4 linked regions of the Homo sapiens genome follow. The protein of the gene in region 1 purifies or fractionates together with the protein of each later gene. This does not show direct contact. Each region holds a gene or a part of one and is shown in the gene's direction. Other genes may lie near its edges.

Region 1 (7,461 bases):
TGGGCTCAAGCAATCCTCCTGTCTCGGGCTCCCGAAGTGCTGGGATTACAGGAGTGAGTCACCACGCCCAGCCTAAGTATTGCTCTTCTGTGATGATTTGCAGGCAACAATCACCTCTTGTTCATATTTTCATTATCTTTCCCTCCACCCCGAGCCTATAGTCTGTCTTGGTCAGACCCCATTTCTTGAGTGCACCAGGCTGGAGTTTGGACCCATCCACATCCTCGCAGCTCTCCTGAGTTGGGGCCCAACATCTGGCTTGGGGAACAGACAGCTTTGCCGACAGCAGTAACAATTTGGTTGAAATGATAACTTTGTCAAAAATGAATTTTGCCTTAGTGTTTTTTTAAAGGTTGAGAATCTTGTACATTCTTACAACATTTCTATTTTCTACAGTTAAAAAACTGTAGGCTGGGTGCAGTGACTCACTCCTGTAATCCCAGCACTTTGGGAGGCCAAGGTGGGTGGATTGCTTGAGTCCAAGGGTTCGAGACCAGCTAGGCAACATAGCAAAATATTAGCTAGGTGTGGTAGCTACTCGGGAGGTTGAGGCAGGAGAATTGCTTGAACCCAGGAGGCAGAGGTTGCAGTGAGCCAAGATCATGCCACTGCACTCCAGCCTGGGCAAGAGAGCTAGATTGTCTCAAAAAAAAAAAAAAGTAAGTTCCAATTACTTTGCAGCCAATTATTCTTGCTCTTCTATTTGCAATAGCAGAAGATTGAAATAGCCTCCTAGATGTCTGACAGTGGAATGGGTTCTTTTCTTTTTCTTTTTTGGTAGAGATGAGGGTCTCACTATGTGGCCAGGCAAGCCTTGAACTCCTGGCCTCAAGTGATCCTCCCGCCTCTGGAGGCAGGAGGTAGGGTACAGTCCCAGACTCAAAGCACTGGGATTACAGGAGTGAACCACTGCGTGAGCCTGGTTTCTTTTCTTTCCCCTCCCTCCCTTCCTTCCTTCCTTCCTTCCATCCGTCCTTCCTTCCTTCCCTCCTTCTCTCCTCTTTCACTCTACCTCTTTCTTTTCTTCTTTTTTCTGGCTTGTTAAAACAGAAATACATAATAATTATAGTGAAATAAACTAGGGTATTTACTGCAGCAGTTAGTAATAATGAAATGTTGGAAAACAATCTAATGTTCATCCGTAGGGAATATTTAAAATATAGTGTATTTCTGCCGGGCGCGGTGGCTCACGCCTGTAATCCCAGCACTTTGGGAGGCCGAGGCAGGTGGATCATGAGGTCAGGAGATCGAGACCACGGTGAAACCCTGTCTCTACTAAAAATACAAAAAAGTTAGCCGGGCTTCGTGGCGGGCGCCTGTAGTCCCAGCTACTCGGGAGGCTGAGGCAGGAGAATGGCTTGAACCCGGGAGGCGGAGCTTGCAGTGAGCAGAAATCGCGCCACTGCACTCCAGCCTGGGCGACACTGTGAGACTCCATCTCAAAAAAATAAATTAATTAAAAATAAATAAATAAATAAAATATAGTGTATTTCTGGCCGGGCGCGGTGGCTCACTCATGTAATCCCGGCACTTTGGGATGCTGAGGCTGGCAGATCACAAGATCAGGAGATCAAGACCATCCTGGCTAACGCGGTGAAACCCTGTCTCTATTAAAAATACAGAAATTAGCTGGGCATAGTGGCATGTGCCTGTAGTCCCAGCTACTTGTGAGGCTGAGACAGGAGAATCGCTTGAACCTGGGAGGTGGAGGTTGCAGTGAGCTGAGATCGAGACACTACGCTCCAGCCTGGGTGACAGAGCAAGACTCCGTCTCAAAAAAAAAAAAAATTATAGTGTATGCCATGGAATATTATGCAACTGTTATATATGTGTGTGTGTTCCCAAAGCATTGTTCAGTAACAAAGGAAAAGTGCAAAACACTAAAATGGATGAATACATGCTTGTGTAAACACAGACACTGTCAGGAATGTTTGTCTGGAGGTGATGGGTATGGAGCCTTTTTGTCTGATATATTGGGTGTATCAAGAATGCCAGGTCCTGAGCAGTTTTTTTTTTTTTTTTTTGAGTTGGAGTCTCACTCTGTTGCCCAGGCTGGAGTGCAGTGGCACAATCTCTGCTCACTGCAACCTCCACCTCCTGGGTTGAAGCGATTCTCGTGCCTCAGCCTCCCGAGTAGCTGGGATTGTAGGCGCCCGCCACCATGCCCAGCTAATTTTTTGTGTTTTTAGTAGAGACGGGGTTTCACCATGTTGGCCAAGCTGGTCTCGAACTCCTGACCTCAGGTGATCTGCCTGCCTCGGCCTTCCAAAGTGCTGGGCTTACAGGCATGGGCCACCGTGCCCAGCCGTTTATATGTATTAACTCTTAATCATCAAAACAAACTATGTGGTATTACCATAATTATCGCCATTTATACAAAGCAACAGAGGGATAAGGAGATTAAGGCACTTGCCCAAGTGCAAGAGGTAGGACAGGAACCCAGAGTCCCGTGCTGGTAGCTGCTTTTCTGTGCACTTAACATTATCTCATTTAATTCTTGCAGTCACTTCATGAAGAAGGTGGCGGTCCTAGGGCATTGGAGAAGTTATGTGCTTGTTCAAGGTCATGCAGCTGGAAGATGGTGGTGGTAGGACAGGAAGTCTGTAGGGCCTGATTCTGCAGCCCTCTAGTCTATACTCCTTTGCTCCTGTGTCCCTCATCCCCCCTGCAGAATGGGCACCCCGTTACCTTTCTGAGCCACTGTGCGCAGAAAAGAGAGCATGTTGGCCAGGCTGGTCTCGAACTCCTGACCTCAAGTGATCAGCCTGCCTTAGCCTCCCAAAGTCCTGGGATTACAGGCGTGAACCACCACGCTCAGCCTCTGAATACTTTGTACTCAAGCCATTTTTCAGTGCTGTGTTTGCAGTGAGCACACCCGAGGGATGAAGACACGTCTCCCTGTGGGAACCTGGGCTTACCAGGGCCCCTAGAGGAGGGGAATCTCTCAAGCTCAGAGCTCTATGGCTGCGGTGCAGGCCCACTGTGTGCATGGTGTCAGTCTGGGCCCTTCCATGTTGCCCCCGTGGGACTTGGGGTAAGGGGAACTGATGCAAACATCACGCTGCTGTTGCTTGGTGTGAGCAATTAATTCCTGTGGCTCTCACCCAGGAGTCTCATGTCTTTGGGTCAGACAAACTCATCAGCTTGTAGAAATGGCACAGTCCCACGGGCCTGTTAGAATCTTCTATTGTGCACATGTTGCTCTTAAAATATACAAATCAGTTTTGATTTTAAAAAATTATTTATTTTTTTAGTGATAGGAGTTTTGCTACGTTGCCCAGGCTGGTTTCAAACTCTTGGGCTCAGGAGGTCCTCCCACTTTGGCCTGGACTGCCAGCATAATGTATCACCACACCCGGGACTGATTTTCGTTTTTCAAGAACAAAAACCAAAAACATACACAAACCGAGAGTCAAAGCTTGCTAATTAGAGGAAAGTCAGGAAATGGGAACCATTCAAAGAAGAAAATACCCCCACCTCCTACTCTCACCTATCCAAAGACAATTAGGTGAATCCCTTAGTAGATATCTTTCCAGACGGTTTTCCATATAGATTCCCATATCTGGCCAGGCGCGGTGGCTCACACCTGTAATCCTAGCGCTTGGGGAGGCTGAGGCGGATGGACCACCTGAGGTCAGGAGTTCGAGACCAGCCTGACCAACATGGAGAAACCTCGTCTCTACGAAAAATACAAAATTAGCCGGGCACAGTGGTGCAAGCCTGTAATCCCAGCTACTCAGGAGGCCGAGGCAGGAGAATTGCTTGAACCTAGGAGGCAGACATTGTGCTGAGCCGAGCCAAGATCATGCCATTGCACTAAACTCCGCCTTAAAAAAAAAAAAAAAGATTCCCACATCTTTACTAGTTTGCAGAAATAAGATCCTAGCATATGCAGTGTGTAGGAACCACCTTGGTTTAGCCACGTCTCTGTGACTGGGGGCCACTGTGGTGACCCCCAGCTCCCCGGACAGAGTCAAGAGCTCACCAGCCTGCAAAGGTTTTCACGGCCCCCAGCCAGACTCGGGGGCTTCCTCTTGCCCTGCTACTTCCTGGGAGCTCTGAGGGCAGGAAATGGCGCCACTCAGCTCCTGGCCTAACAGCTTGGGGACCACAAATGCAAAGGAAACCACCCTCCCCTCCCACCTCCTCCTCTGCACCCTTGAGTTCTCAGGCTCACATTCCCACCACCCACCTCTGAGCCCAGCCCTCCCTAGCATCACCACTTCCATCCCATTCCTCAGCCAAGAGCCAGGAATCCTGATTCCAGATCCCACGCTTCCCTGCCTCCCTCAGGTGAGCCCCAGACCCCCAGGCACCCCGCTGGCCCCTGAAGGAGCAGGTGATGGTGCTGTCTTCGCCCAGCAGCTGTGGGAGCAGGCGGGTGGGGCAGGATGGAGGGGTGGGTGGGGTGGGTGGAGCCAGGGCCCACTTCCTTTCCCCTTGGGGCCCTGTCCTTCCCAGTCTTGCCCCAGCCTCGGGAGGTGGTGGAGTGACCTGGCCCCAGTGCTGCGTCCTTATCAGCCGAGCCGGTAAGAGGGTGAGACTTGGTGGGGTAGGGGCCTCAGTGGGCCTGGGAATGTGCCTGTGGCTTGAAAAGACTCTGACAGGTTATGATGGGAAGAGATTGGGAGCCATTGGGCTGCACAGGGTCAGGGAAGGCCAGGAGGGGCTGGTCACTGCTGGAATCTAAGCTGCTGAGGCTGGAGGGAGCCTCAGGATGGGGCTGATGGGGGAGCTGCCAGCATCTGTTCCTCTGTCATTTCTGATAACAGTAAAAGCCAGCATGGAAAAAACCGTTAAACCGCAGGTTGGGCCTGGCCGTTGGCAGGGAAGTGGGCAGAGGGGAGGCCCGGCCAGGTCCTCCGGCAACTCCCGCGTGTTCTGCTTCTCCGGCTGCCCACCTGCAGGTCCCAGCTCTTGCTCCTGCCTGTTTGCCTGGAAATGGCCACGCTTCTCCTTCTCCTTGGGGTGCTGGTGGTAAGCCCAGACGCTCTGGGGAGCACAACAGCAGTGCAGACACCCACCTCCGGAGAGCCTTTGGTCTCTACTAGCGAGCCCCTGAGCTCAAAGATGTACACCACTTCAATAACAAGTGACCCTAAGGCCGACAGCACTGGGGACCAGACCTCAGCCCTACCTCCCTCAACTTCCATCAATGAGGGATCCCCTCTTTGGACTTCCATTGGTGCCAGCACTGGTTCCCCTTTACCTGAGCCAACAACCTACCAGGAAGTTTCCATCAAGATGTCATCAGTGCCCCAGGAAACCCCTCATGCAACCAGTCATCCTGCTGTTCCCATAACAGCAAACTCTCTAGGATCCCACACCGTGACAGGTGGAACCATAACAACGAACTCTCCAGAAACCTCCAGTAGGACCAGTGGAGCCCCTGTTACCACGGCAGCTAGCTCTCTGGAGACCTCCAGAGGCACCTCTGGACCCCCTCTTACCATGGCAACTGTCTCTCTGGAGACTTCCAAAGGCACCTCTGGACCCCCTGTTACCATGGCAACTGACTCTCTGGAGACCTCCACTGGGACCACTGGACCCCCTGTTACCATGACAACTGGCTCTCTGGAGCCCTCCAGCGGGGCCAGTGGACCCCAGGTCTCTAGCGTAAAACTATCTACAATGATGTCTCCAACGACCTCCACCAACGCAAGCACTGTGCCCTTCCGGAACCCAGATGAGAACTCACGAGGCATGCTGCCAGTGGCTGTGCTTGTGGCCCTGCTGGCGGTCATAGTCCTCGTGGCTCTGCTCCTGCTGTGGCGCCGGCGGCAGAAGCGGCGGACTGGGGCCCTCGTGCTGAGCAGAGGCGGCAAGCGTAACGGGGTGGTGGACGCCTGGGCTGGGCCAGCCCAGGTCCCTGAGGAGGGGGCCGTGACAGTGACCGTGGGAGGGTCCGGGGGCGACAAGGGCTCTGGGTTCCCCGATGGGGAGGGGTCTAGCCGTCGGCCCACGCTCACCACTTTCTTTGGCAGACGGAAGTCTCGCCAGGGCTCCCTGGCGATGGAGGAGCTGAAGTCTGGGTCAGGCCCCAGCCTCAAAGGGGAGGAGGAGCCACTGGTGGCCAGTGAGGATGGGGCTGTGGACGCCCCAGCTCCTGATGAGCCCGAAGGGGGAGACGGGGCTGCCCCTTAAGTGTCGGTGAATAGTGAGGCTGGAGGCCGGAATCTCAGCCAGCCTCCAGCACCTTCCCTCTCACCATCCCACTGCCCCCTCGCTCCCATGTTTCCACCCGGCACCCTGATCCTCACCCGAATCTCCTTTTTTTTTTTCTTTTGAGACAGAGTTTCGCTTTGTCGCCCAGGCTGGAGTGCAATGCACGATCTCAGTTCACTGCAACCTCTGCCTCCTAAGTTCAGGCGATTCTCCTGCCTCAGCTTCCCGAGTAACTGAGATTACAGGCACCCACCACCATGCCCAGCTGCTTTTTTGTATTTTTGGTAGAGATGGGGTTTCACCATGTTGGCTAGGCTGGTCTCAAACTCCTGACCTCAGGTGATCTACCTGCCTCAGCCTCCCAAAGTGCTGAGATTACAGACATGAGCCTCCGCGCCTTGCCTCCTCACCCACCTCTTCACTCTGAATCCTCATGAGGCTTCTCAGCCCTGGATTTCCTGCTGCCATCCTCACCCAGCACCCACAACTAGCGCCTGGGCAGGGCAGGGCTGGCACCTCTCAACGTCTGTGGACTGAATGAATAAACCCTCCTCATCCACCCCTATTTATCTCCATCACCATTTCCCCCTCTTTCTTGTTCCTGGAAACGGCTGCTGAGTCTCCATCGGCCAAACTTATCTGCCCTGTGATTTCTTTGACAATTCTCCTTTTCCCCCAGAACCCACCCTGGGTTGACCAGAGTCTGGGAAGAAGGACAAGAGAACCCGGCAAACTCCCTCCTAGGATTAACTTTGTAAAGCACCCTTGCCCTGTAGCTGCAAGGGCTGTGGAACCTGGGCAGCCCGCAACCACCTTTAGCTCTGGGCCCCCCAGGCCAGCCTGGAGCATGGCTGGGTGGGGCCACCAGCCCATGCTCTCAGGCGGGCCTGTGATCTTTCCCAGGGCACATGGACTGTAGGCTGGCCCTGGCCCACACCACCACACTCTCCCCAGCCATGGACAGAGGCAGCCAGAGGCCTCACGGTTTCTCCTCCGAGTTTCTGGCTGGGTGTAGTTCTCAGAAACCCCAGTGCCTGCGTGTGTCCACTCGTGGGTGTGGTTTGTGTGCAAGAGCTGAGGATTTGGCGATGCTTGGGAGGGGTAGTTGTGGGTACAGACGGTGTGGGGGTGGGAAGTGGTGCAGAGACTGAAGAGGGTCAACCTGGGCATGGGGGACACAGGGACTGCTGAGAACGTGCGTGTCATCTTTGCTCTGATGGGGTGGACATAGCAGAAAATCTAACTCTGTCTGTAGCCCCATACAGAATGCCAGGGTGAGCACAGTGGCTGGTGCCT
Region 2 (7,025 bases), on another chromosome or scaffold:
TATTTTATGTAATTTAAATCAAAGAGAAAACATTTTCTTGTGCTTTATTTTACATTGAACATTTAACAACTTCATTAACGTTGCACATCATTTGCTTTTTTTTGCTCCTTGTGTTTATATGCCAGTCTTCAATAAGTGACCGATGTTGGGACTCTGATGTCTTGCCAAGAGTGATTACTAAGCCTTACAGGTCATTAAAACTGTTTATTGCTAATCACTAGAAAATTAATTTTTAAATTGATCTGCTTAGTGTTTTTCTTAGTGCATTCTTAGTGCTGAGTAAGCCACATCAAAACCTATTAATTTTGTGTCCTTTATCCAAGTGAGGGATAAATTCATCATCTTTCCCTAAACCTGCTTCATCAGTATTCTCAATCTCAGTAAATGATGTAATCATTATCCTATTTGGATAATGTAGAAGAAATGGAGAAGCCAATTACTGAATCTTTCCTGCCCCAGTATTTTCCCATTGCAGTCAACTCCCAACCCTTATTCCTGACATTTTCTGGGATTCCATCCATGCCAATCAAGCCATTATTGTTTCTCATCTGGAGAACTGCCACATTCTTTTACTTGAATTCCCTGCCTCTATGCTTGCTCTTCCCAAGCCTAGACTTTAAAGCTGTTTTTGCAAAGTACGCACTCATTTCACTCTCATGCTTCGGTCTTTTCAGTTGCCTTCCTTAGGATAAGGTCCAGAAAAACAAACAAACAAACACAGCTTGGGTACTACATACATCACCTGGGTGATGGGACCATCCATATTCCCAAACCTCAGCATCATGCATGTAACAACCCCCAACATGTACCTTCTGAATCCAAAATATAAATAAATAAAATAGGGGAAAAAAGAATGAAATAAATGAAAAATTCTCAAAAAAATAAAGTACAGCTTATGGACCCAGTAGCGCTATCCTTATTCCTTGTACTCTGCGTTTCAGTCATGTGAAGTTTGCGTCACTTCTTCAACTGAACCAGGCTGTCTTGTCTCCAGGCCCTTGCACAGTATGTTTCCTCCACCTCAGACACTTCTTTGCCCCTTCATGTTTCTGTGTAAACATCATTTTTCTTAAGATACCTTCCCTGACCCTGCAAACTAAGTCTCCTTGCTTTGTGAAGTTCCTAGCCCATAGTGCTACATTAGTACCACTTTATTGTAATTACCCCACTTGGAATCTTCTTTCCTTTTAGAGTATAAAGTTTATGAAGGTAGGGATAACATCTTATACATCTGTTTTCTCAACTCCTAACATAGTGCCTGAAATTTGTAAGTACTTAAATAAACATTTGCCAAACCATTGTTTTAATTGTTCACTGTCTTTTCACTTGTTTGGTTGAAGAACTAAGATTTTGAGTTTCCAAACTATTTAGATTTTTGAGAATCCAAACGGTTGATCATAAGAATTAGACTTACATGGTTTTAGTGTTCTCAGCTAGGGAGCTAGGTTAATCCTGAGACATTTTCAGAACATCATTATTGTTGATGCGTGATGCAGCGGACCTTAACGTTCATACTATAAAAATCGCAGTCTTTTTTTGTTCTGATTATTCAAGCAAACCAAAATGATAAAGTATCAACTGGTAGGTTTCTGCGTTGTTGCTTTTATGAGATAGAGCCAAAAAGTTTTTTTACTTCTTGTCCTGTGTGTGTTGATTATATTATATAATATTTGTTTATTTTTTGCTGTTTCCCCTATTAGAATATAAAAGCTCTAACGAACACAGAGACTTCGTTCCTTTCCTTGTTTTATCCTCAGCACCTTGAACAGTGGCTGGCAGAGTAATAAATATTTATTGAATGGAGGAATGATTGGAATCCCCTGGACAGTAAAGTTGTTGATTCAGTGCTTTTACTTTTCCTATTTAGTTCTGAAAATCCAGAATGGCTTGATGTTTACATGCACATTTTACAACTGCTTACTACAGTGGATGATGGAATTCAAGCAATTGGTAAGGTGGTTTATCGGGATGCACTACAGTTACTCATTTAATTGTTTGCTGATTTTAAAGTACTGCTTTATTTGTCCTCTTTATTAAGTACATTGTCCTGACACTGGAAAAGACATTTGGAATTTACTTTTTGACCTGGTCTGCCATGAATTCTGCCAGTCTGATGATCCACCCATCATTCTTCAAGAACAGAAAACAGTGCTAGCCTCTGTTTTTTCAGTGTTGTCTGCCATCTATGCCTCACAGACTGAGCAAGAGTATCTAAAGATAGAAAAAGGCAAGTACAGTTTCCCAGGCTCATACTGTTTTTCATTTCATTTATTTCTCCCTTTTAAAAAATGCTTTCATTTCCCTAATTATAAAAACATTACATGCTAAACTTCAAAAATTTATTTTATTATCATATTTATTTATTTTATTTTTTATTGATTTTTATTTTTTGGAAACAGAGTCTTGCTGTGTTGCACAGGCTGGAGTGCAGTGGTACAATCTTGGCTCAGTGTAACCTCTGCCTCCTGGGTTCAAGTGATTCTCGTGCCTCAGCCTCCCAAGTACCTGGGATTACAGGCGCACACCACTATGCCCAGCTAATTTTTGTATTTTTTCAGTAGAGACGGGTTTTTACCGTGTTGGCCAGGCTGGGCTCGAACTCCCGACCTCAGGTGATCCACCCACCTCGGCCTCCCAAAGTGCTGGGATTACAGGCGTGAGCCACCCCACCTGGCCTGTTTACTTATTTTAAAGCCAGAGTCTTATTTTGTTGCCCAGGCTGTAGTGCAGTGGCAGGATCATAGCTCACTGCAACCTTGAATTCCTGGGCTCAGGTGATTGTCTCACCTCAGCCTCCTGAGTAGCTGGGACTACAGGCACATGACGCCACACCTGGCTAGTTTTTAAATATTTATAGAGACAGGGTCTCACAATCTTGCCCAGGCTTGTCACAAACTCCTGGGCTCAAATGACCTTCCTGCCTTGCCTTCCAGAGTGCTGGGATTACAGGCATGAGCCACTGCACCCTGCCGAAAAATTTATAAAAAATATCAAGGAAACATGATGTTTGTAATCTTACCATCCCACACATGCACATATATTTAATTCTGCTTTTTAGCCAACATTTCATTTAGAAATATAAAATGAATATTTTCCTATATAAACACATATTCTTTCACAGAATTGTTTTTATGACCACAATTAAATTCATGATTCATTTAGAATTTATTCTCGTGTCACATGTGAAGTGTGGCTTTAATTTTTTTTCCCCCTTTGATAACTTTGGTTCTAGTGGTATCAGTTTTTTCCCAGAGGGCTACCCAGTTATCTCAACATCATTTAGTGAATAATCCAGCTTACCCACACTGATTTGAAATTTCATCATTATTTTTAAAATTCCCCTATATATTCTGTTCAGTTCCATTGCTGTATTCATATATTAGTAGCCATAGTGTTTTTAAATATTAAGGTTTTATGTTTTAATACCTAATAAGGCAAATTCCTCTTCATTCTAAGTTTTCAGAATGTTTTTAACTATTTTTATCACTAACTTTGAGTTCCAAAAACAAAAAATTTCTGACATTTTTGTTGACATCGTGTTAACTTGATAGGATATGTTATGCCCTTTTATTTGTTCAGGTCTTTTTTGTGTCCCTCAGTAATGGTTTCTTCATATGGATCTTGGATATTTCTTATTAGTTTCATTCCTAGATAATTGTATCTTTTGGGTTTACTATTGTCTGTGACATATTTTCTTCCACTGATTATTATTGTTGGAATATATGAAGGCTATTGATTTTGGTATATTAACTTTGTATCCTGTAACCTTACCAAATTCTTAATATTTTTAGTAGTCGTTCCAGTAATAATCTTTGGGCTTTATCTGATAGTGCTTTGGCTTAAGTTAGATATATTTTATCACTTGTCTATCTCTGGTTTATTCTTCTTGTCTTTCTGGGTTGCCTAGAGTCTCTGGTGTAAAATAATAGTGATGGTAGAAAACATCCTTACCTTCTTCCTGATTTTAGTAGGAATAATCCTAGAGTTCCATTGTTAAGCATTATTGGGTATAAGATATATGTTTTACAGCCAGGTGCTGTGGCTCACACCTATAATCCCAGCACTTTGGGAGGCTGAGGCGGGCAGATTACCTGAGGTCAGGAGTTCAAAGTCAGTCTGGCTAACATGGTGAAACCCTGTCTCTGCTAAAAATACAAAAATTAGCCAGGCTTGGTGACGCATGCCTGTAATCTCAGTTACTCAGAAGGCTGAGGCAGGAGAGTTGCTCGAACCTGGGAGGCAGAGGCTGCAGTGAGCTGAAATCACGCCATTGTACTCCAGCCTGGGCAGCAGAGCAATACTCCGCACCCCCCCTCCAAAAACAGATATATGTCTTACCATTTAAGGAAATATTAATCTGTTTCTATTTTATTAAGAGTTTTTAATAAAAAAGGAATGTTGAATATTTTTAAGATCTTCATTTGTAGATACGTTACCTCATTGAGAAGGTGGCATTGAGTACAGTCCTTAGGGACAGAATGGAGGGAGTCATGTGCATACTTGGGGAGAAGAACATTCCAGACAGAGGGAATGGAAAGTGTAAAAGCCTTCAACCAGAAGTATGCCTGGTGTCTTTGAGGAGGAACAGTGAGATCCCATATGGCTGGGGTGGATTTAGCAAAGTAGCACATGGAGCCAGAGAGGTAGAGTATGGAGGGCCTGATGTTGCCTTTTCCTCTGAATGAGGTGGGGAACCATGGTGGGTTTTAAGCAGAAGTTGCCTACGCATGAGCTGGCTTTAATAGGCTGCTGTTTTGATGAGAAATATGGGGAGTCATGGGTACAAAAGGGACATGAGTTAGGAGGCTTTTAGAGATTCTTCATAATTGACTCATAGCAAGAAATGTTATAACTTGGACCAAGATGGTAACAGTGGTAGTGGTAGAAAAATCCTGTGAGCTAATTTTTTTGTACTTTTTGTAAAGACACGGTTTCACCATATTGCTCAGGCTGGTCTCGAACTCCTGGGCTCAAGCTACCCGCCCATCTTGGCCTCTCAAACTGCTCAGATTACAAGCGTGAGCTACCACCCCTGACCTCCTAGGGTATTTTAATTGCTGATGCTTCATTGCTTTAGTTCTCAACTCAATGTTACCTTGTCAGAGAGCTAGCCCTGCTAGGCTGCTATATTATATTCCTCTTTTATTTCCTTCATAGAACTTAACCAAAACCTGAAATAGTCTGTTTTATTTACTTATTTGAAAGTATAAAAATGTAAGCCTCTTATGGGCTGACATCTTGCTGATGTTACCAGTGTATCTGTAATACCCAAAATAATAATGTCTAGCACTAATTCAATACATATGAATGAAAAACCAAACTTAACTGGCCAATTCCATGCTTCTTGATTTGTTTATACAGTAGATCTTCCTCTAATTGACAGCCTCATTCGGGTCTTACAAAATATGGAACAGTGTCAGAAAAAACCAGAGAACTCGGCAGAGTCTAACACAGAGGAAACTAAAAGGACTGATTTAACCCAAGATGATTTCCACTTGAAAATCTTAAAGGATATTTTATGTGAATTTCTTTCTAATATTTTTCAGGCATTAACAAAGGTAGGAAAGAAGTATTGATGATGTCATAAGCAAAAGAAAGTGTGGGTTGCTTAACGCTTCAAACTTTATTTTTTTTTAAATATGAAAGTAATATATAATTTGGGAAAATAAAGTAAAATCTTAATATCACCATGAGTTTATAATCTTAAAAACAACTAGCTGATGTGGTTTGGTATATTTACGTGTGACAGACATATGCCTATGTTTGCATGCATGTGTTTTTATAAATGCATTTTTCATATACTTTAACCCAGCATATGCAATTTTTATAGACTACTGTTTTCCCTTAACACTGTATTATAAACATTTTTCTTGATTCTAGATGAAAGACTTTTTTACTGAGAGCCAGTTTAAACCTAATTTACCAAATAATCAGTTTTCAAAATTTACTGCAAACTTCTTTTAAGGAACATTCTCCCTGAATATGTTCAATGGTTATTAATATTCTTCTTTTGACCATGTTTTTTCTATCCATATATTTGGAAAGAAATGTATTATGAATATGTTATGAATATATTGTATTATGAATATAAAATGTTATAAATATAGCTGTGAAGAATATATTTATTCATACCCACTTAATTTTTTAAAGAGTATTCCTTAAGAAGTTTCTCTTGGCCAGGCGCCTATAATCCCAGCACTTGGGAGGCTGAGGCAGGTGGATCACTTGAGCCCAGGAGTTTGAGACCAGTTTGGGCAACATGGCAAAACCTCATCTCTACAAAAAATACAAAAATTAGCTGGGCATGGTGGCACACGCCTGTGATCCTAGCTACTTGGGAGGCAAAGATGGAAGGATTGCTTGAGCCCAGGAGGTCGAGGCTGCAGTGAGCCCAGACTGTGCCACTACACTCCAACCTGAGCGACAGAGTGAGACCCTATCTCAAAAAACAAAATGAAACAAAAAGTTTCTCTTATTCTGGTGATTTTTTTTTTATTAGTTGTCTTGCTTCCCTTTTCCATATTTGTATTTTCCAGATTTGGGGTTATTACCTTAGCAGGTTTTATATAATTTAAATTACTGGATTCAACATTATAAATGTGAAGATGGCTAAGTCATGATGGCCATATTTTGTCAAAATGCTATTTATATGTGAAAATGTTGGTTTTACTTGACGCTTATTATTGGGTATTATAATTTTTATGTCAAAGTTCAGGTAATAAATTGTGTCTTACTTTGATTTGCATTTTTAAATTAATGAGATTGAAATATTTGGATGTCGTATGTTAATTTGTTTCCTACCTTTTAATAATTTATCCATTTTGATTATTTGTATGAATTTCTTGGGTAATAATGTATCTTTTCCATATTTATCGCATGTATTTTTTTCCCATTCTTTGCTGTTGTTTCTGTTTTTTGGAGCAAGGGACATCGATATTTCTTAACTTTTAAGTGGTGGGAACATCAAAGAAAGGTGGGCTGAGAATACACGAGTGCTATGTCATGCAAATTCTTATGTCATATTT
Region 3 (7,025 bases), on another chromosome or scaffold:
GAGAACATAAATTGATAAAGCCATCTTTGGAGAGCAGTTGACATCACTGTCAATTTTTTTTTTTTTTTCGGAGTTTCACTCTTGTTGCCCAGGCTGGTGTGCAATGGTGCAATCTCAGCTCACTGAAACCTCCGCCTCCCGGGTTCAAGCGATTCTTCTGCCTCAGTCTCCTGAGTCGCTGGAATTACAGGCATGTGCCACCACGCCCAGCTAATTTTTTGTATTTTTAGTAGAGATGGCGTTTCTCCATGTTGGTCAGGCTGGTTGCGAACTCCCGACCTCAGGAGAACTGCCCACCTCAGCCTCCCAAAGTGCTGGGATTACAGGCGTAAGCCACCGCACCTGGCATCACTGTCAAATTTTTTTACTTTGACTTAACAGTTTCATTTCTAGAAATTAATCTTATAGATAAGCTTATACATGTATGCACCCTTAATCTCAAAACCTTGAAAACATATCAATAGATCTAATGGCCCAGGTTGGCACCAATACTGTACAGTGATTCTTGAAGCCTAGGCACAGTGGTTCATGCCAATAATCCCAACACTTTGGGAGGCTGAAATGTGAGGATCGCTTGAGCCTAGACAACATAGCAGGAACCCATCTCTACAAAAAAATTAAAAATTAGCCAGGCACAGTGGCACACACGTGTTGTCCCAGCTACTCAAGAGGCTGAGGCAGGAGGATTGCTTGAGCCTGAGAGGTCAAGGCTGCAGTGAGCTGAGATCGCACCACTGCACTCTAGCCTGGGTGACAGAGGGAGACCCTGTCTTAAAAATAATAATAAAAATTAAAATGACTGATTGCTTTTGGTATTATTCCTAAACCTAAAATAAGGTGGGGAGGGGAGTTGCTGAAGGAATTAACCCCACCAACTCTGTAGACGCCACATCATTTCCTTCTTCAGTTTCTTCCCCCTTCCCTTTTTTAAAGTCATATGCCTTCCTTTTGGGCTTTAGAATCAAACAGACCTCAGTTCACATCTCAACTCAACTTAGTGGCTGTGCACCAAGTGAAATTTTTAATCATTAAGCCCTCAGATTTTCCTTTTTTTTTTTTTTTTTTTTAATTTTAATTTTTTGAGACAGAGTCTTGCTCTGTCGCCTAGGCTGGAGTACAGTAGTGCTATCTCAGCTCACTGCAGCCTCCTCCTCCTGGATCCAGGTGGTTCTTGTGCCTCAGCCTCCCGGGCAGCTGAGACTACAGGGGCACACCACCACCCTTGGCTAATTTTTGTGTTTTTAGTAGAGACAGGGTTTTGCAATGTCACCCAGGCTGGTCTTGAACTCCTGGCCTCAAGCAAGCCACCCACCTCACTTTCCCAAAGTGCTGAGATTACAGGTATGAGCCACTGCGCCCAGCCCCAGATTTTCTTAATTAGACAATTGGGACAATAATAGCTACCTTGGAGAATTGTGAGAATTACATATAATTAAATGACAGGTATATGCACTACTCCTTGAGTGTACCAAAAGACTTAGAATTCCTCATACATACCGTGCCATTATACCTCTCCATGCTTTTACATGTGCTCTCTCTAGATTTCCTCTCTTGAAGACTCCGACCAAGTGTTTTCTCCTTTGTAGAACCTTCTCTGCCTCTTCCCATGACTCCCCATAGCAGAACTACACATTCCTTCCACTGTGTCCTTGAGCTTTGCCACACCTTTATTAAAGTATGTTTCACAAGCCATGGCAATTATCCGTGAATCAGCCTTCCCTACTAAGATCCTCAAGGTCAGCTGGGCATGATGGCTCACACCTGTAATCCTAGCACTTTGGGAGGCCGAAGTGGGCGGATCACCTGAGGTCAGGAGTTCGAAACCAGCCTGACCAACATGGTGAAACCCCGTCTCTACTAAAAATACAAAAAATAGCCAAGTGTGGTAGTGCATGCCTGTAATCCCAGCTACCTGGGAGGTTGAGGCAGGAGAATTGCTGGAACCCAGGAGGCGGAGGCTGCAGTGAGCTGAGACTGCACCACTACACTCCAGTCTGGGTGACAGAGCAAGACTCCATCTCAAAAAAAAAAAAAAGATCCTCAAGGTCGATTGTCTCATAACTATATGCATCCCTAGCTCTCAGAACAGGTCCTGATTTATGGTAAATGCTCAGAAGGGGAAAAGAGTGAATGAATGAATGTTGGATCCATGAAACATATTTTGGGGGATTTCAGGGTATAAAGTTAGGGTTCCAAGAAAGGCCTCTGTGCGATGGTTGCAATCATCATGAGATGGGCTTCATAAACTCCTGGGCTTTCTGGCTTTAATTAACACTATGTGTCCACCTTTTAGCAAGGAGACCCTTTAATGGTCCTGCTGAAGGAGGGCTGGCCAGGGAAGTCATCTTGTCTGGGCTCTAAACTGGACAACCCCACCACTTCCTTCTCTCTGTCCTCTGCTGGAAGGACCAGTGCATCCAGCACAGTGGTCAGTGCCCTCCTGCCACAGGAACTCCCTGGCCAGTTGCCTTTTTCCACTATTACTTCTTCTTTTTTTTTTTTTTTTGAGACTGAGCCGTATGGTGAAAGCAAACTCCTAACCATCAGTGCAGCACTCAAGACTTGTTACTATAGGTGACCTAGGCAAACACCAACAACTCACATCCTTACCAGCAAAGAGCTCAATAGATGGCAAAGTCTTCCGTCAGTCTTCCTCACATGAAGGGGTTTCAGGAAAAAACATTCATCCTAAGAAATAATGCAGTCTCAGCCGGATGCGGTGGCTCATGCCTGTAATCCCAGCACTTTGGGAGGCTGAGGCGGGTGGATCCCTGTGGTCAAGAGTTCGAGACCAGCCTGACCAACATGGAGAAACCCCATCTCTACTAAAAATACAAAAAATTAGCCGGGCGTGGTAGTGCATGCCTGTAATCCCAGCTACTTGGAAGGCTGAGGCAGAAGAATTGCCTGAACCTGGAAGGCAGAGGTTGTGGTGAGCTGAGATCACGCCATCACACTCCATCTTGGGCAACAAGAGCGAAACTCCATCTCAAAAAAAAAAAAAAAGACATAATGCAGTCTCCTCTCCAAATTCTAATCATTTTCATGCTCCAGAGTCACCACATCCATAGCAGTCTTTTTCCCCAAAAGTATGGCTCGTAACTCAGTGTAGGCCTCCCTACCCTCTTCTAGCACCAACACGAAAACAAGCCATTTTATAACAACTCTGACTTTTCTCACCCCATCCCAATACTCTCATTGGTTATCTCTGGCAAAAATACTGGCAGCCAAATTTGACCTTCTCAAGCAGTAGAATGGCTACAGCTAACAGTCAAAACCTAAAAAATGGCTGGGTACAGAGGCTGTAGCTCACGCCTGTAATCCCAGCACTTTGGGAGACCAAGGCGAGTGGATCACTTGAGGTCAAGAGTTCGAGACCAGCCCAGCCAACATGGTGAAACCTCATCTCTACTAAAAATACAAAAATTAGCTGTGTGTGATGGCACACACCTGTAATCCCAGCTACTTGGGAGGCTGAGGCAGGAGAATCACTTGAACCTGGGAGGCGGAGGTTGCAGTGAGCAGAGATCATACCACTGCACTCCAGCCTGGGCAACAGAGCAAGACTCCATTCAGAAAAAAAAAAAACAAAAAAAAAAAACACTAACTGCTAAAAGCATGCTTCATCTGAGTCTCTTCTTACAGTCAGTGACAGAACTTGGATCTCTTCCCTATGGCCAGAGTGATCAGTTCTTTGACCATGAAAGTAGACCTGGTATAGGTCAGGCTGTTGATGTATACTTGACACAGGTCAAATCCTCCTGGCCAGCAGGAAGCTTTCCCAGTTTCCCAACAGTGCACCTTTTATTTGTGATGTTTTTCCCTTCTATCCCATTGCTATTTTCCCAACTTATCATCCTCCCTTGTATTTTTCCCCTTGGGATCTTTCCCAACCTGATTCCAGCCCAAAGATTTTCCAGTGTATTTACTGGACCCTACTCCCATCCCTGACCAAGCATCACTAGCTTTGCTTAGTTTTTTGTTTTTTTGAGACAGGGTCTTACTCTGTCACCCAGGCTGAAGTGTAGGTGGCACAGTCACAGCTCACTGTAGCCTTGACCTCCCGGGCTCAAGCGACCTCCCTCCCTGGCCCCTGAGTAGCTGAGACCACAGGCATATGCCACCACATCCAGCTAATATTTTTATTTTTTGTAGAGATGGTGTCTAACTATTGCCCAGGCTGGTCTCAAACTCCTGGGCTGGGGCAATCCACCCACCTTGGCCTCCCGAAGTGCTGGATTGCAGGAGCGAGCCACCACGCCCGGCCTAGTTCTGCTTGTTGTGCCTCTACAGGTTTCCTCCAACTTACTGAATCACCATGAAAATACATCAACCCCAACATGCCAGATATAGTCTCTGTTCCCTGGCTCCCCCTGCCCCTTCCAGGCTATTGGCTCACTGCCTCCTTTCTATAGTTCTTTTTCCTTGAAAGTTTTCTATAGCTCTTCTTACCTTTCACCGCATCATTGATCAGCTTCCAGGGTACTTCCCTACATTTATTAAGAGCTTTAGCCTGTGGTTCACAGTCTTCCTCTCCTCTCCCTCACTTGTCCATAACATCTTGGACAACTTAAACATATTCATCAGTAAACTGTCCAGCTCTCCGGCTTCATGATTCCCTGAACTTCTCTACCAACCTTCATCTGCATTCAGCTTTAGCTCTCCAGTTATATGACCATATCCTATCTTAGTCATTACCCAAAACCTCTAAAATCATCATGTGGCAGTAGCTATGCTAGACACTGGGGATATAATCATAACTACACTGTTCCATCTCTCCTCTCAATGTTCTTGGTTTGTTTTTTTTTTTTTTTTTGAGACAGAGTTTCACTCTTGTTGCCCAGGCTGGAGTGTAATGCTGCGATCTCGGCTCACTGCAACCTCCACCTCTTGGGTTCAAGCAATTCTGCTGCCTCAGCCTCCCGAGTAGCTGGGATTACAGGCATGCGCCACCATGCCTGGCTAATTTTGTATTTTTAGTAGAGATGGGGTTCCATCATGTTGGCCAGGCTGGTCTTGAACTCCCGACCTCAGGTGATCCACCTGCTTTGGCCTCCCAAACTGCTGGGATTAGAGGCATGAGCCACCGCGCCCAGCGCCCTCAATGTTCTTATAGTGAAGTAGAGGAGAGTGGTATAATGATGTAGGAATAGAGATATATATTAGGTACAGTGGTTTCACAAAGCAGGAAATGGACAGTGCAAAAGGGAAGGCATCGCATATTAGAGGTGCTACGTTAGGGCACATAGGGTAGTAAGAGTGCAACAGGAAAAAATGGAGGGGGAAGCATTCTAGGCAGAGGGTTGTGCCAAAGTTCAAAGGTATAAAACAGGGCCAAGTGCGGTGGCTCACGCCTGTAATCCAGCACTTTGGGAGGCCAAGGCAGGGCAGATCACTTGAGCCCAGGAGTTCCAGACCAGCCTGGCCAACATGGTGAAACCCCATCTCTACTAAAAATACAAAAAAAAAAAAAAAAAAAATTAGCCATGTGTGGCGTCATATGCCTGTAGTCCCAGCTACTGGGGAGGCTGAGGCGGGAGAATCACTTGAACCCAGGAGGCGGAGGTTGCAGTGAGCCAAGATTGCGCCACTGCACTCCAGCCTGGGTGACAAAGCAAGACTCCATCTCAAAAAAAAAAAAAGGGATTAAAACAGTATGGCTTACTGGCAAAATGGAGAATAGTGGGAAATGAAGCTGGAGAGGTAGGCAAAGATGTCATGGAGGGCCTTATGGGTTTGACCTTTATAGAAATAATAATAGCCACAACTTATTGAGCATTCACTTACCTTTAACTCATTGAATTCTCACAACAACCCTATGCAGTAGGTGTCATTATTTCCATATTATATATGAGGTATTGCCCTTTCTTATCTCCGTTTATCCTTTTAGCCTCATTTCTTACCCTTATCCCCTCATTTCCTATTCTCTGGCCACACCACAGTATTTCATGGTCCCCTTTCTCCCATCTCACTGTCTTTGCCCTTGCTGTTCTAACAGCCTAGAATCCCTTCCATCACTGCCTGTAGAAACTATTCACCCTTTAAGACCCAGTTTCAGTTCTCCTATTTAAAGCCTCACCACAGCCAGGTATATAGACAGTTGGTCCCATCCTCCTGCATAGGAAGGTGCTCTCTCTCTCATATCCCTATTTCCAAGAGCTTCTCAAGATCACAGCCACAATAGTAGAGAAATAAATTTTTGTGAACACAGAATTAGAAGCAGTTGGGTTTGGCTGGGCGTGGTGGCTCATACCTGTAATCCCAGCACTTTGGGAGGCTGAGGCTGGCAGATCACCTGAGGTTAGGAGTTCGAGACCAGCCTGGCCAACACGGTGAAACCCCATCTCTACTAAAAATACAAAAGTTAGCCAGGCGTGGTGGCGGGCGCCTGTAATCCCAGCTACTCAGGAGGCTGAGGCAGGAGAATCGCATGAACCTGGGAGATGGAGGTTGCAGTAAGCCGAGATTGTGCCACTGCACTCCAGCCTGGGTGACAAGAGCGAAACTCGGTCTCCAAAAAAAAAAAGCAGTTGGGTTTGAAATGTCATCTTGCTGCCAGTTCTCAGAAAACTTTTTTCCTTTTCTTTTGTAGCTAAACGAGTGAATGAGGTGATCGTGGGGAATGACCAGCTCATGGAGATCTGAGTTCTGAGCAAGTCAGACTCCTTCCTTTTGGCCTCCAAAGCCACAGATGTTGGCCGGCCCACCTGTTTAACTCTGTATTTATTTCCCAATAAAGAAGGGCTTCCAAAGGCATGCTGGAGACTTGTGGAGCAGTCCAAAGCTCCATGTCAGGTGGGCTCCAGGTGTACACAGTGTATGTTCATGTGTCATGTGGTAAAGATCATCTGGAGCAAGTGTGTGGGACAGGACAGATACAGTGGCCTAACTCTTGTGTGCCAAGATGTATCGGTGGGGCAGCAGCTGTCCAATGTAAAGCTCCTAGGAAGGCTACTTTCTGACTGGCTGACCCAACCCAGTCCTGAAAGTATCCCTCACCTAAAAGGACCTGGGAGTACTTCAGT
Region 4 (7,025 bases), on another chromosome or scaffold:
ACATATTTTTCAGGGGTTACAAAGCCCTATTTTACAGGGGTGCCAAATGTGAAAAAGCACCGTCCCCGTCCTCAAGCAACTAAGGCTGTAAAAGATGGAGGCAAAGCCACACTGAGAGAGGACCAAAGCTGCATGCTAGGACAGGGCTGGGGAAGGCCAGAAAAGCCTTGGTCGTGAGGTTGGCATTATGTGGGCTGCAGAGGGTGCTCCGGGTTCTGATGGCTGGAAATGTGCAAGGAAGGTATTCCAGGAGGGAACTGCATGAACAGGGACTTGGAGGCAGGATTGTCTGGGGCTTGTGGAAGGTGCCATAAATAATTCAGTTGAGCTGGAGTTGGGTGCTCGTGCAGGCATGATGGAGAACGGGATTGGAGAGTCGGGGGTTGGTGGGTATCAAAAGTTGGTTGGTGGAGTTTACCCTTTGGCTGGGCAGGTGCGCTGTTGCAGATGTGATGGGGATTAAGATTGGAAGCGTGTTGACATCACCTGAGCTAGTCACCTGTCTTTGGTGGAGGCTGAGTGCGGATGGTGGGCAAGAGACGGTAGAAGAGGCAGATTATGTGGGGGAGGCTGCATCAGACCCTCCTATGCCCCCTTCTTCTGGAATAAACCACATTCTTTGTGCTTCTCTTTGAAACCACTTTTCAATGTTGCAGCCTTTTTTGTGGATTCCCCTGGCATCTCCCTGTGCCTTCTTTCAGATTAAGACGATTTCCAGTTCCTGGGGGACCTGGATAGAGAAGCCTGACCTGTGTGCTGGGTGGCTGAGGGACACAGATGGCGTGGTGGAAGGGTGCATACGGTCAACCTGGAGGGAGGCCAGCTCCCACACAGGGTGTTAGGACCCGTCAGAATATGCGCCTGTCACTGAAACGGACCACCGGTGGCTGACCCTCTCGCTCCTCTTGCACAGCTGTATCCAGCATGCTCCAAGGCCACAGCTCTGTGTTCCAGGCCTTGCTGGGGACCTTCTTCACCTGGGGGATGACAGCAGCTGGGGCAGCTCTCGTGTTCGTATTCTCTAGTGGACAGGTGAGTTGCCTTGCTTTGGTTCTGGATGTTGGTGGGGAGCCCGTTGGTAAAGGGGCACTGTCCCACTCCATGGAGCAGGTTTGTAGACTTTTCAGTGCCCCTGGCCACACCCCCAGGCATTGTGTACTGGGGTTTGTTCGCTGTCTTCTTATTTTCTCACCTTCTCCCTGCCAGGCCGGGAGAACAGATGTCTGCTTGCTGTAGACACCTTCATGCACCATCATCTCCCCTCTTGACCCTTGACAGCCTGACTTGAAGGGAATAGGAAGTGAGAAGCCCAGTTATTGAGGCTTCGTTAGCCCGCTGCCTAATTTCTACCTGCCATGTAATTTCTTTTCTTTTTTCTTTTTTCTTTTTTTTTTTGAGACAGAATCTTGCTCTGTTGCCCAGCCTGGCGTGCAGTGGCAGGATCTCAGCTCTCTGCAACCTCCACCTCCCGGGTTCAAGTGATTCTCCTGCCTCAGCCTCCAGAGTAGCTGGGATTACAGGCATGTGCCACCACGCCTGGCTAATTTTTGTATTTTTAGTAGAGGTGGGATTTCACCACTGGTCTCAAACTCCTGACCTCAGATGATCCACCCACCTCGGCCTCCCACAGTGCTGGGATTGCAGGTGTGAGCCACCGTGCCTGGCCTGCCATGTAATTTCTTTCAGGCCTGGAGCAAGTGGTACTATGCGTGACCGAAGAACATTAGATTTCAGGTGTAACTGTCCTCCCCTGTGGACTTGAGTTGGGTGGGATGGTTGGAAAGACCTTGGGAGAAGAAGGGGCATCTGTTCCCTTTTTTTTCAACCCATCTCCAGGTTGTTTCCTTTCCCCTTGGGATGAATATAGACAGACCCATGTCCCTGGCCCCCTGCAAACTCTTACTTCTTTCTCCTACATCTTCCTTGTATCCTACTCCCAGTGCCCTCACTCACTGTCATGGCCCCACAGCCTATCTCTCCCTCCTCCCACAACCCCATCCTTACACCCCTTCTACACGCTCTACCTATAGTCCCACATACCCACACTTGCACACATACCCATACCCATATGCCCTCCCCACACCTCTGCACAACCCACACTCACCTCATATACCTGAAATTGCATTCTTTTCTCCAACCCAGATCACCCTCAGTCCGCAGCCCTGGAGCCATCCATGGGTATCTTGATGAATGCACAATCCCTGCATCGATCACCTCGGTAGCCTGAGACATTGTAGAAACGGCAAATGAATAAGTGACTTAAGATCTAGTTCAACATGTTGTGAGGGAGATCTGGAAATGAAAACACCTTTAGGAAGTTCACAAGTCAGGCACTCTTGTGTTAGAGACCAGTACAGCAGGCCTTGATTTCAACAATAAAATCCCGACCTCCCTTGCTGCGCTGCACTGCCCCCGGGAGCTGATGGGTTGGAGACTGGAAATCAGAAAACACACAATCCAGAAACATGGTTTATCTGGAACCTAGGTATATAAGATGCCAAGATAAGTCAAATTCACAGAGACACATTGTAGAATGGTGATTGCCAGGGGCCACAGAGGAGGGCAGAAATAAGTTATTCTTGAATGAGTACAGAGTTTCAGGGTTTTTTGTTTTTGTTTGTTTTTTTTTTCTTTAGACAGAGTCTTGCTCTGTCACCCAGGCTGGAGTGCAGTGGCGTGATCTTGGTTCACTGCAACCTCTGCTTCCCAGGTTCAAAAGGTTCTTCTGCCTCAGCCTCCCGAGTAGCTGGGATTACATGCATACACCACCACGCTCAGCTAATTTTTTTTGTAGTTTTAGTAGAGACGGGGTTTCGCTGGTAACCCCATCCGGCCAGGCTGTTTTATTTATTTATTTTTTATTTTTTTTGAGCTAGAGTCTTGCCCTGTCACCCAGGCTGGGGTTCAGTGGCATGATCTCAGCTCACTGCAACCTCCACCTCCTGGGTTCAAGTGATCGTCCCACCTCAGCCTCCCAAGTAGCTGAGACTACGGGTGTGCACCACCATGCCCAGCTAATTTTTGTATTTGTAGTGGAGATGGGGTTTCACTATGTTGCTCAGGCAGGTTTTGAGCTCCTGACCTCAAGTGATCTGCCTGCCTCGGCCTCCCAGACTGCTGGGATTACAGGTGTGCACCATCATGCCCAGCTGAGTTTTAATTTTGTAAGGTGAAAAGTTCTGTAGACCACATGGCTTCTTTCACTTCAAAGAATGTCCATAGAGCTCATCCACGTTATAACATGTGCCAGAATTTCTTTTGTTTTTAAGGCTGAAGACTATTCCATTGTATGTACATACCACATTTTGTTTATCCATTCATCTATGGATAGATAGCAAAAAAAAAAAAATCTGTATTGAAATAGAAGATGCTTATGGAAAAATGCACATTTTATTAGGCTGGTGCATTTTATTAGGTTTGCACCAACCTAATATAAGTATGCAGCTTGATAACTTTCCACAAGTGCTCATGAAACTAGAGCCCAGATCAAGAAACAAAACAGTACCAGCTCCTCACCTCACAGCCCCTTCCAATCAGGAGCCTTCAGTCTCCCTTCCAATCTCACCATCCCCAACCTTTACTCCAAGGGTCATCTCCCATGTGATCTCTAACAGCACGGATATTTTCCCTGTTTCTGTGCTTTATTTAGATGGAGTAATCATATAGTACGTACTGTTCTGCATCTGGCTGATTTTACCCTACTTGTTTTCCAGTTTCTTTAATGTCCCTGTCTGTTTGTAAGATGTAACTGTAGTATGTGTGTGCGTTCCCATCGCCATTATGGTACCTGTTGTATGAGTGTATCCTAGTTAACATATCCATCCTACTGTTGGTGAGAGTTTGGGTAGTTTCTAGTTTTGGGCTCTTAGCACTGCCGAACATTTTTCTTCATGGGTTTGTTGAATACAAGTGCATTCCTGTCATGGGATTACTCAGGAGTGGCACACATAGTGTTCACCTCTCATCGGTGCTGCCAAATAGTTTGCCAAAATGGTGGTACCCGTTTGCACCGCCATTGTGTGAGGGTTTTTTTTTTTTTTTTTTTTGAGGCGGAGTTTTGCTCTTGTTGCCTAGGCTAGAGTGCAATGGCATGATCTTGGCTCACTGCAATGTCTGCCTCCCGAGTTCAAGGGATTCTCCTGTCTCAGCCAAGTAGCTGCGATTACAGGCATGCATTACCGTGCTTGACTAATTTTTGTATTTTTAGTAGAGATGGAGTTTCACCACGTTAGCCAGGCTGACCTCAGATTCCTGACCTCAGGTGATCCACCTGCCTTGGCCTCGCAAAGTGCTGGGATTATAGGCATGAACCCTTGCACCCAGCCTATTTTTTTTTGTATTTTTAGTAGAGATGGGGTTTCATCATGTTGGCTAGGCTGGTCTTGAACTCCTGACCTCAGGTGATCTGCCCGCCTCAGCCTCCCACAGTGCTGGGATTACACATGTGAGCACTGTGCCCGGCCTGTGTGAGGGTTTTGATTGTTCCACCTGCTCCTCTGCTCCTCACCAACGCTCAGTAATTCCCAACTTGTAGACAGGCTACTTACTAAAGGTTTACAGTTGTAATTCACAGGGAAAGCTGAGTAAGAGACAACACAAGGGCCAAGACAAGCCAAGCACCACTTGAAAGAACGCTTCTGATTGGCTATGGGGTGGGTGGAAAGTTAACCAAAGACTTTCCCCGTGGTTCTTGGCCCATGGTATAAACTGAGTAGCTCACGAGCTCAGGAGTCGGCCAGTCTTTATTTGCGTGGCTCTTTTGGGCCTTATGGTTTCTTCTTGTCCCAGGAAACATCATCTTATTGTCTCTTGGAAACTGAAACATCTTGTTTTGATTTTCAGAGGCGGATCTTAGATGGAAGTCTTGGCTTTGCTGCAGGGGTAAGTAGCATGTAGTAGGAGAAATGGAAATTGAGGCATACTGATTCTGACATGTGTCTGCCAAGGGCTGTCTTCAGTCCCTCCCCTTGCGACCTAGATGCATCTCTGTGTTCCTCAGGCACTAACACCTCCCTCTTATCACCTGCCATATTTATTTCCCAGCTTATCAAATGCCCATTTCTCTTTAGACAGCAATCGAGGTTTATTTGACAGCTGCCTCAGGACTAGGGAAATAAGATCTTATTTGGTAAGGGCCTAGCACAGGCCTAGCCTAATACATAGTTGGCTCTAACTAAATATACTTTTTCCTCCCCTTCTCCCTTAAAAGATCTTTTTTATAGGCCTTTTTTTTTTTTTTTTTTTTTTTTTTGAGACAGAGCCTTACCCTGTCACCCAGGCTAGAGTACAGTGGCACAGTCATGGTTCACTGCAGCTTCAACTTCTCTGGACTCAGGTGATCCTCCCAACTCAGCCTCCCAAGTAGCTGGGACTACAGGCATGTGCCAACGTGCCTGGCTGATTTTTGAGTTTTTGCAGAGATGGGGTTTCACCATGTTGCCCAGGCTGGTCTTGAACTCCTGGGCTCAAGTGATCCACCTGCCTAGGCCTCCAAAAGTGCTGGGATTACAGGCGTGAGTTATGGAACCCAGCATATTATAGACATTGTTAAACATGTAAAAATTGTGGATAGAAGCCTGTAATGCATCCCAGACACCCATCTCCCAACTTCAATCATTATTGACATTTTGCTAATCTCAGTTCACCTGTCCTCCCCAAAACTTCTTGGGAGGTTAGAATATTTTATAAAAGCTAATCCCAGATGACATGTAATTCCACCTGTAAATTCAACACACATGTCTAACTGAATGACTTTTTAAAAATAAACATAATCACATGGCCATTATACCTACCAAATTAATAATTCCTTTTTATGATCTAACATCCAGTCCATATTCAGATTTTCTTCATCTTTCTAAAGGTGTCATCTAATATTGTTTTGTTATAATTGGGGTCCAAACAAGGTTTCTATATTGCATTTGCTTGTTATATCTTTTAAGTCTCTTTAATTTTTTAACAGTTCATTTTTTTTTTCATGCTAGTAATTTGTTGGAGAAACTGGGTCATTTGTCTCTAGAATGTTGGCTGATTACTTCCTCGTGGTGCTGCCTAACTTGTTCCTCAGTCCCCTGTATTTCCTGTAAGCTGAGAGTTAGACCTGGAGTCTTGATTAGTTCAGATTCCATTTTTCAGGCATGAAGATGTCATGGTGCTGTGTATTGCAGATGTATTACCCATATCAAAAGGCGTGTAATATGTGGGTTTCCCTTTTAGTTGATCAGGGTTTGGTTTCTTTCTTCAGTTTTTATAGCCCTGCGATCTGGAAAAACTAGCCTGGAGGTGGAGCCTGCCAGAGGCCATCTGAGTCAGTAGCTGTTAGACTGGAGCCACTGTTCCGTCAAAAACACTGTCCTTTCTGAGCCATACACAGGTGCACAGAGAGTGTTGAGAAAATTAGTTTCTAGGTCCTCAGCTTCCATACGTTCTCTTCCCTATAACTGCTGTGCCTGAGAATGCCGGGGAAGCCAGCCCTACTTTCTTTCCTTCCTTGGCACAGCTTCCCTTTCCCACCTTACACAAGAAAGATGCTCTTGCCTTATAACCTTGTCTCTGGGTGGCATGGTCTTCAGGCAGACATGGAGGGCCCCTTGGAATGTTGGTGCTGGCACGGAGAAAGTGAAGGGCCTTGTCTCTAATCACTGGGCATAAGTCCATTTTTTTTTTTTTTTTTTTTGAAATGGAGTCTCCCTCTGTTGTCCAGGCTGGAGTGCAGTGGCTGGATCTTGGCTCACTGCAACCTCCGCCTCCCGAGTTCAAACAATTCCCCTGCTGCAGGCTCCCGAGTAACTGGGATTACAGGTGTGCACCACCACGCCTGGCTAATTTTTTTTTTGTGGTTTTAGTAGAGATGGGGTTTTGCCGTGTTGGCCAGGCTGGTCTCGAACTCCTGACCTCAGGTGGTCTACCCAACTCGGCCTTCCAAAGTGCTGGGATTACAGGTGTGAGCCACCATGCCCGGCCCACAATTCCTTTAGCAGTTCTGATGTGATCCTGTCCTTTGAAGGTGGATCTAATCAAATTGTCAA

What was found.
Region 2: the proteins of SPN (region 1) and SAAL1 purify together in Homo sapiens (affinity purification with mass spectrometry; 2 studies listed by BioGRID and IntAct, with this or other methods). This does not show direct contact.
Region 3: the proteins of SPN (region 1) and EIF2B3 purify together in Homo sapiens (affinity purification with mass spectrometry; 3 studies listed by BioGRID and IntAct, with this or other methods). This does not show direct contact.
Region 4: the proteins of SPN (region 1) and SLC39A11 purify together in Homo sapiens (affinity purification with mass spectrometry; 3 studies listed by BioGRID and IntAct, with this or other methods). This does not show direct contact.

Annotation. Positions count from the first base shown.
Region 1 is NC_000016.10:29,658,788-29,666,248, forward strand, and holds the start of SPN (leukosialin precursor), read left to right. Parts: upstream 1-4,459; 5' UTR 4,460-4,529; intron 4,530-4,907; 5' UTR 4,908-4,941; coding exon 4,942-6,144; 3' UTR 6,145-7,461. UniProt on the Homo sapiens protein: Predominant cell surface sialoprotein of leukocytes which regulates multiple T-cell functions, including T-cell activation, proliferation, differentiation, trafficking and migration.
Region 2 is NC_000011.10:18,082,068-18,089,092, reverse strand, and holds part of SAAL1 (protein SAAL1), read left to right. Parts: intron 1-1,867; coding exon 1,868-1,950; intron 1,951-2,038; coding exon 2,039-2,227; intron 2,228-5,361; coding exon 5,362-5,558; intron 5,559-7,025. UniProt on the Homo sapiens protein: Plays a role in promoting the proliferation of synovial fibroblasts in response to pro-inflammatory stimuli.
Region 3 is NC_000001.11:44,850,571-44,857,595, reverse strand, and holds part of EIF2B3 (translation initiation factor eIF2B subunit gamma), read left to right. Parts: intron 1-6,592; coding exon 6,593-6,645; 3' UTR 6,646-7,025. UniProt on the Homo sapiens protein: Acts as a component of the translation initiation factor 2B (eIF2B) complex, which catalyzes the exchange of GDP for GTP on the eukaryotic initiation factor 2 (eIF2) complex gamma subunit.
Region 4 is NC_000017.11:73,082,664-73,089,688, reverse strand, and holds part of SLC39A11 (zinc transporter ZIP11), read left to right. Parts: intron 1-913; 5' UTR 914-924; coding exon 925-1,032; intron 1,033-4,842; coding exon 4,843-4,881; intron 4,882-7,025. UniProt on the Homo sapiens protein: Zinc importer that regulates cytosolic zinc concentrations either via zinc influx from the extracellular compartment or efflux from intracellular organelles such as Golgi apparatus. May transport copper ions as well.